Linked DNA regions of Homo sapiens: region 2 is linked to region 1. Evidence: fine-mapped expression QTL. A gene starts in region 1. The other region holds a variant in brackets. All regions are shown on one strand. Distances are from middle to middle.

Evidence for each region. PIP is the estimated chance that this variant, and not a neighbour inherited with it, causes the effect. A credible set is the group of variants that fine-mapping cannot tell apart.
Region 2: its variant is the best candidate, but not a certain one, in a credible set for the expression of TMC3 in nasal epithelium (TOPMed, PIP 0.86).

Annotation. Positions count from the first base shown.
Region 1 is chr15:81,371,689-81,376,085 of GRCh38, forward strand. It overlaps TMC3 (transmembrane channel like 3), which reads right to left and starts at 2,525. Exons shown (of 22, transcript NM_001080532.3): 1 at 2,301-2,525; 2 at 903-1,049. The coding sequence starts at 2,389. The region is part of intron 5 of TMC3-AS1 (TMC3 antisense RNA 1); the gene reads left to right.
Region 2 is chr15:81,332,811-81,337,207 of GRCh38, forward strand. TMC3 (transmembrane channel like 3) reads right to left here. Exons shown (of 22, transcript NM_001080532.3): 20 at 3,799-3,841; 21 at 1,910-2,165; 22 at 1-452. All of the region lies in intron 2 of TMC3-AS1 (TMC3 antisense RNA 1), which reads left to right. Among named protein-coding and RNA genes, the nearest start is that of TMC3-AS1, 11 kb to the left of the region's middle. The variant G/A (reference allele first, on the strand shown) is at 2,296.

The sequences.
Region 1 (4,397 bases):
GGGTTCATCCCATTTGATCCTTCAACAAACTGCTATCAGTGGATCTCAAACTTGAATGTGCAAAAGTATCAACCTGAATGCATGTTAAAAATACAAGGACCCTCTCCCTTGGTTTGATTCAGTAGGTCTGAGAGCAATCAGGGATTTTGAATTTTTAACAATATCCAGAGAGCTTAGTGGTTGACATTTTTGGAAACGTGCTGCAGGAAGTTAAGGGCTATTCCTCACCATCGCTTCAACTTTAAAAAAGAAAAGAACTGGTATTCAGAGAAATTAAGAAAATTAATATCACATAGATAGAAATTGGTAAAGGCAGTATTTGAATCAGGGAATCTATTTTTAAATCTTTAGCACTTTATTATATAGACAGACTATTTAATATGACTCTAAGTATCATAATAATCTGGCTTCCTATAAAGTCTTTTTTTTTTTAATTATTTTTTTACCCAGAGGGTGGTAATATCCAAGCAGCTAAAATGAGTATCTCTTTTCATATTGGCTTACTGCTCTGTTTCTAGTGAGCGAGACGAGCTTGGAGAGAATATTAAAATCTAGTGTTTAGAAAGGAGGTAGAAGATAAAAGACTCTCCACCAACACACACACCCCCAACACAGACACACAACTCTTTATACTCTCTCTTTCTCTGTATCTGTCTCTCTGACACACACACACACACACACACACACACACACACACACACACACACACACACACACACAGAGGAACTGGCTTCTGGACCAGCTAGACCTCTCAGATATCTTTGTGACTTTGCTAATTCAGGTCAAGAGTGACTGAGCCATCTCTCTCACATGAGTCTTTATCCTCGTTCCCATGGGCAAGGCAAGGTGGTTTATCGGAAAGCATGCTTGTAATGATCAATAATGGCCATTGAGGCCCTTACCTCAATGCCCTCAGCTTCTGTCCCATAGTCCAGGGTCTGCAGCGAATGTTTGCCATGAGATCTTTCTGGAACTGTATATTCTGGAAGATTTGTTCCGGATCATTGCTGTCCCCTGTTTCATCAGCACTAAAGCTGTCATCCAAGTTGCTGAATGATCAGGGCATTAAGGAGGAAATCTGATTAGAAGAATTGCTTCCAGCAAAGATCATCTTGCCCTGGGCACAAGTTCAGCATCTCACTGCCCTAGGGTCATCTGTATGAAATGTGTATGTGTTTGTGCGTGTGTGTGTGTGTGTGTGTGTGTGTGTAAAGTGAGGGACCCACAGAAACAGATAATTTGCCAGTGTCAGTAGCCTGTTGAAACACATTTATTGGATTCAATTACTTCCACTGGGTCATTAGAAGATAATGATTTCTCAGGGTGCATGATATTATCAGAAAACACAAGATGAGACAAGAGGGTATTTACGTACTCTTGGATTCCTGAGTAGCAGCAATTTGGGTAGGCAAAATAATTTCTTTTTCAGGCTCATTGAAATAATCAGCTAATTTTAGAGGCAGGACTCCTTATGTTACTTGAAGGTAACATAAATCAAAACTTCTGCCACTCAGAAACCCCTCTTCACCCTTTCACGTCAATTCATTTTAAGCCTGAGATAACCGAGGCAGAGCCAGGCAAAGCAATTTCTACGAGCGAAAGATTAGCTAAGCAAATTTACATGGGTGAGATATTTCAGGAAATAGATACTCTCAAGAGGAACAATTTTCCAACATGTAGCAACATTTACTCCCAGTTACACTTAATATGCTTATCCTAATGCAACATTTTGAGAGGAGTTAAGAGTATTCATCTATGACTATTAGAAATAAAAGATTTCGTTTGTTATTCTCTAATTCATGTTGTTTTTACTCATTTAGAGGAGAATTTTTTTCAATTTCACCAAATTAAATGGCAGCTGTACTAGACCTTTATAAATATTTAACAAATTCGAATAGCACTCTCATCCACTTCTAACTAGCCTGAAGGCTTTTCCAATAAACACTTTATTTATCATGATAGACATATTATCTGCTCTCTCTTGACATTGCTGATTGAGTGAACATAGAGAAAACAGGGAAACATATCTGTGGGTTTGGCCAGCCATAAAGCCAGGTTGGGATGCAAGCTTTTGGATTCTGACCTCCTGGTCAAGAAGCAGCCAGAAGAACCATTTCCCCCCATGCCCGTTGCTGAGGTTGCCATCCTAGTTGTACCACAACCTGGAGAAGTGAGTTTCTGAGTTCATTCTGAAGGACAACTGAGCAGGACAGGGACTTTGTCCCTCGCTCTGGTGACCCATGCATTCCTTCCTCACACACCTGACTCCTCTGCCCAGCTGATGAATGGGGCCAGCTCACCTGAGCAGCAGAGATTCCTGGTAGAGGTAGCACTGGCTGGCATTTCTCCGGATGCCTCTATAGCGCTGGGATGCCTTCGAGGTTTTCATGGGAGCTAACCCACTGCTAACAATCAGAAGCTGGCCAGAGAGCTAGGAAGTTGGCAGGCAAAGGTCTGTTCCGAGGTTTCTGAATGGAAGCAGCGGAGTTTGCTCTGCCCGCTAGTTCTCAGGAAGAAGACTGTGTGCTTGCAGCTGGTGCTCTGAGCAGGGAAGAATCCAGGAGGCCAGTCATGCATATGTAATGTTAAGGTGGCTGAGGCACACAGATTGGCTGGAGTCTAGACAGCCAAGGGTTTGGCCCGGTGATCTACACATCGCTTGGTGCTGTACAAATGATCACATCCGTTAACCCCTTATGCCCTGACAGTCCTGGATGGTTTGCAAAACACTTTACATCTGTGACCATGACTGGTGTTCACAAAACACTGAGGGAGTATAAAAGGCAAGGCTTAATTTCCCCAGTTTTTTACTCTCAACGAAGAGGCTTAGAGACAGTAAGGACCTTGCTTGTGTTCATACAGTGGAGTTGAGGAGAGGCACAGCCATCACATTTTATTTTTTCTTATTTAGTTTTTTCTCAACTTAGTTTCTATTTTGAAAAAAGTCAAATCCTTAGAAATGCTGATGGAACAGTACCAGGAATATCTGTACACTCTTAACCTAGATTTACCAATTGCCACATTTTGCCACAATTGCTTTATTTCTGTCTGTATCCTTCCCCCACCACACACCATTTGAAAGTAGATTGCAGAAATAATGATACATCAACCCCAAGTACTTCAGCATGATATTAATAATAATCAAATTAACATCTTATTACATTTTACCTTTACCATACATGGTCACATTAATGAGCACTATGACTCTGAGACTGAGGCTAAAAGAAATAAAGAGACTTCCTATAGCATTTGGTAAGAAAGGAAGACTTTGATAGAGATTAGACTCTCACCTCAATGTTCTGAAAATAGGTTGCCTGCTGTAAAATGGGATGAGTAGTTCATCCTAGTCCTTCAGCAAAGGTCAGCAGCTTCTCCTCCCCTTCCCCAGCCATCAGCAGAATGGAGCCCGGTTCCTTTGTCACCTGCAGACTCTCACTGTTAGCCATGCATTGGGATTCTGTTCCAAGAACCTCATTCCCAAGTCCAAGACTTGCCTGGTTTCACAGTGTAAACCTCTATTTGCTACTTAACACAAGAAATGGTTTGACTGCAGTGAGGTAAATTGCACCTTTGTAGTAACAGAATGGGAAGGTGCAGGACTGGAGTAGACATGACTCTTTCTATTGAACATTACCCACTGCACACTAAAGACTCAATAAATGGGTGAATAAATAACTGAAGTGGACACCAGACAACGGAGCAGAAAGAAAATCCATCAGCAAGTTCAGATGTGGGGCTTCGGAGAGAAACTTCATTCATTTGTCCATTCAATCCTCCACTAATTCATTAGCAAATAATTGGAAAGATCTTACCACACACTGAACTGGCAAATGTAAGCAAGAGCCCTAGCCCAGGGGTTCAGGACCATCAGGCAAGTGTTCAGACCTAGCGCTGAAAGCATGGGAACGAAGTGGAAGGCTGAGTGCCAGAGCTGGCCTTGGGTCAGAGATGGATCCGGAGCCTCTGGGACCAGGTCATCTGTCTGCCAATTTGCTTGAGGCCATTTGGCCTGATGCTCTATCTGGTAACATTAGATAAAATGTGTGCTTATCAAATGGACAAATGGCTTATACAATAGAATTACTGCTAGCCCCACTGGGATTTTTTGCATTCTTTCAGAGATCTTTACTTATCTCAATCATTCCTGAACATTTCAAAGATTTTTTTCGTCCTACTTTTTCTAAAGCCCCCCTGCCTTATTTTGAAATATTTACTCAAAAATTTAAAATATTTTATATTAATCTCACTCAAGTATTTTGAGTGTTTTTGTTTCCTTTTGATGTTACATATACATGTATATTGTAAGGGGAGGTAAGGAAAGGTAGCAAATTTTGCAGTACACAGGGATTTATTAAAAACAAATTAGAGCAAAATCAATCTTTTTAAAATTTCATATT
Region 2 (4,397 bases), 39 kb before region 1:
GAGGAGCCCGACGGAGGTCTATCAGGGAGCGTGGGGGAAGAGACCGTTTGATCCAATCTCTGCTTGGCGTCTCCTCCTCTTCTTCACTCAGCTGTGGGGAGGGAGGCTGGCGGGGGACCCGGGATGCATATTGTCGCACGTTCCTGGGGTACAGCTCCACAATGTCACCTGAAGCATCTATCTTGAAATGTCTTTCTGGCCAGACATTTAGATGTTTTTTCTTGTAAGAGTCACATTCATTAATGACATAGTATCTGGGGGCGTGGGGCCTGGGACCCTGTGCCAGCAAAGTCGAGGCCTGTGGTCCACGGTGAGGAGGGTTGATTTGCTGAAAGTCTTTTCGGAAAAGAGGTTCTGAGTGTACATCTTCGATGTGCGTTGTAAATGTCATAGGTGTGCGCGATCTGTTCCTGTGAAGGTCACTGGTGCTTGCACACAGACCGTGCAGATACCTGTAAGACAGGGGCGGTTAAGTAGCTGTGGCCTTGGTGGTCTCAGAGCCCCACACCTGAGGACTGTGAGCTGTGAGCAGTTCTCTGAGCATTTTCACTGAGGCTGGTTCCAACTGGTTAATGGGTATGGATTGTGTGCACAGAGACATTTGGGGGACAGGGCTAAACAGTTTTCTTTACTGCTGGAATTTTCAGAACCTAAATCAGTGATGTACACATGAGTCTCCATGAAGACTGCAGAGCGAGGGGTGTTATGCTAGTGTATTTCCTCACAGAGCCCTCTTTGTGTCAAGAGGCACATAGTGGGACTAGTGTCTGTGAAGCACATGTTAGGAACACAGTTTCTCATCCTTTCTGCTAAGCAGCTGTCTGACTTCTCAAGCACTTCTCTGAGTTTCCACTGGTGGGTGGAGGGGAGTTGTACATATTAAACAGTTCTTCCCTGGCCAGGTACGGTGGTTCACATTTGTAATCCCAGCGCTTTGGGAGGCCAAGGCAGGTGGATCACTTAAGGTCAGGAGTTTGAGACCAGCCTGGCCAACATGGTGAAACCTGGTCTCTATTGAAAATACAAAAAAATAGCCGGGTGTGGTGGCAGGTGCCTGTAATCCCAGCTACTCGGGAGGCTGAGGCAGGAGAATTGCTTGAACCTGGGAGGTGGAGGTTGCAGTGGGTCGAGATTGCACCACTGCACTCCAGCCTGGGTGACAAGAGCAAAACCCTAGTCTCAAAAAAAAAAAAAAGTTCTTCCTGATAAAGACTTGAATCTGTATGGTGGCTGTAGTTTGACCCCTAGGGGCCTCTCAAGGAGTGTTTGAACCCTTTCTCCTTGTCAAGACCCCACAGAGACAGGCAGACAACTCCTTATATAACAAGACTTCAAGTTCTTTGCTAACTTAGTCATTATCTTTAAAAAAGAGAGCCCCTGTATTTTATCTATATTGCTTTCGCTGTGCTACATTCAGATCAAATATAATTCTCCATATGAGTTTGGGCCACCGCAGGTCTATCCCCTTCATCTTTCCAGGGGTCCTACCTCCATTAAAGTAGGAAGGGATCTACTGCTTTCTTTGACCCCATGTAATGCATAAATGGTCTTGCCAATAACTTGACCAGACTAGGGCTAAAATATGGAAGATCTTGCCAATAATATGGCCACTGTGGAACTAAAAAATAAACAGTTATTTTCTTAGCCTAGACAAATGTTTATCCTAGGTTGGCTGGAAGGTTTGCTTACAAGTTAAATGGCAGATAACCTAGGAGGAAGAATTTGTCCTGTTTGATAAACTTTGACACCCCCACCCCGCCTCCATTTCTTTTTAGTACCAGCTGTCATAGTCTCCTGACCCATGCCTTCTGGGAGAATTAGAATTTAATGGCCTTGGCCTCCTGAAGCTGCAGAGGCCTTCAAATCTCTCACATTCCAGGTTTTAATCTGTGCTGCAGTGGAGCCTCACCTGTTAGTTTCATGCTCTAGCCTGGATTTGGGGACCCCAGGGAGAGGTGAGCTAGGAGCCCTGTCCCCTGGCCTCGGGCTCTGGGGCATGGACTGTGCGACTGTCTCTATCCTGCCACTCTTGCTGCTCCCTGAGTCAAAATGGGCCACGTTGCCGTTGTTTTGGGGTGTGCCCGAGTGCGCTGAGGACAGCTGGCTGGTAAGATCACTGTCGTTTGGAAGCTTCTTGGTGCTTTCTTCCTGGGTCTGGATTCGGGCTGCAGGGAGAGGGAGGTGTTGTGAGAAGACAGGTGTCACTGAGCAGGTGACAACTTCAGATGAGTTGAGTTGCAAGGGTTTTATGACATCCAAGAGTTGGTCCGCAAACAATTGAGTGCACTTACAAAT[G/A]CACCTAACCAGTGGGCAACAAACATTCTGTAATTCAAATGATTTCATCCCTGCAAGTTGGAGCTGGGAGTGTAGGAGGAATCAAGTGAACACAAGGCTTTACAGTGCTCCATCTGATGCTCCCATGAGGCAAAGCAAGTACTTAACAGCTTTGGGCCTCCAGTTCCTTATCTATTCAATGGAGATAATAAAGCTTACACAACAATTATGATTCTTTGGAAACAGTTCACATGCATTCTGAAAAAAGATGTGGTCTCGAGCTGGAAAATGAACACTGGACAATGCTATTGTTATCCTGAAACAGTCTATGTGGATTCTGGCTTTTGAAGGTGACCTGAACTAAATTTAATTACGCTTAATTGGCAAATAAGCGATGACGATTACAGAGGCATTTTATGGCGTGAGCCACAGTCACTTTCAGTAATCATTATCAATTGTAGGCTTCTCTCTGAAAAGCTGATGGAGCAAGCAAGCATAATCCTTAGGCCTTAGAGGTCTTGCTCAGACATTTTTCTGGAGAGGAATATTTCCCTTCCAATTAGTGAAGTATTGCAACAGCTGTGAGAGCTAGCCCCTAAAGCCCTTCTGGGTCCCATTCTCATTCATGTAGGCTGTGCCATGTTAATGGTGCCCAGTGAGCCTTCTAGCTCACAGCACTCTGTTAGTGGTCCTGAGAAACAGATCCATCTCCTTCGAGCTGCCGTTGCCCACTTTCTTCCCTTCAGGCCACAGCAGACTTCTACGCCACATGCTTCCATTCTCCCTGCTCTGCAGGGACAGGACAGAACCTAAGGAGGCTCAGGGAAGGGACCTGGGAGGGAACATTGCAAGGAAGAGATGGGCCATGGAGAGGAAGTATACAAAAGTGACCCAGACAAAGAGATTCTTTGGGCTTTCATCCACGTGAATGTGCTGCTTTTCCTCTCCTACTTCGATACTTCCTTCTGATTTTACACATGTTTTGGGATTATTCATGGGCCTGGATATGATATAAAAATTAAAGATTTAAAACAACATTTATATCCCTAGATTTTATTTTATTGTGCATAGTTACTGGTGAAAAAACACAGGTTATCAGGAATTTGTATTGGTAGTATACCGCAAACTACTTTAAATGGCTGTATTTTTAAATGCCCACTAACTGAGACAGCAGATCTCTGCATTTAAAAAAAATATTAGGACAGGTGCAGTGGCTCACACCTAGAGCTAGCTCTAGGGGCTAGCTCTCCCCAGCACTTTGGGAGGCCAAGGTGGGTGGATCATGAGGTCAGGAGTTTGAGACCAGGCTGACCAACATGGTGAAAATATAAAAATTAGCCAGGTGTGATGGCACGCACCTGTAATCCCAGCTACTCAGGAGGCTGAGGCAGGAGAATCACTTGAACCGGGAAGGTGGAGGTTGCAGTGAGCCGAGATCACACCACTGCACTCCAGCCTGGGCGACAGAGCAAGACTCTGCCTCAAAACAAAAAAACAACAACAAAAAGAAACGGAAATACTTACCTTCTACCATCTGGGCAACCTTTTTCTTATCCTCTGATCTTGCCTAAAATGCAAATGATATGCATGTTTGTTTTGGCTTTAGCAGGAAGCAGTAACAAATATTATTCCTGGGGGAAGAGAAAAAGATTTACATGCCATAGTTCTTACCTTGGACCATAACTGTACTACTATTGCCCCCTATGGACGGTATGCTCTGGGCTCGGGCCTGTTATTTGAGTGAATAAATGCAGATACCTGAGAGCTGAAGTTTTATGCCTAGCCAGTTTTATTTAGGGACAGCTAATTAACAGACCATGTTTAGATTCTGTCCATAATAGTTTGCCTGAATCACAAAGAAAAAAATACAGATCGACAACACTGGAGATGTATGTTTCCACCAAAATGGCCTTTGTAACTCCAAATGAATTTCCAATTAGAAGCTAATTTGTGTTTCTTTGCATGAATTGATGTTCATGGGAAGTTTTTTTTTTTTTCTGATAGAAGTGGAAGGAGTTTTTTTGCATGGGTGAGGTCAGTGAGGCATCTGGGGTGCCAAATTTAAGGAGGCACTTATTTTCAGGGCTGTGAAAGGACAGAATCAGCATTACGCTTACAGAGCC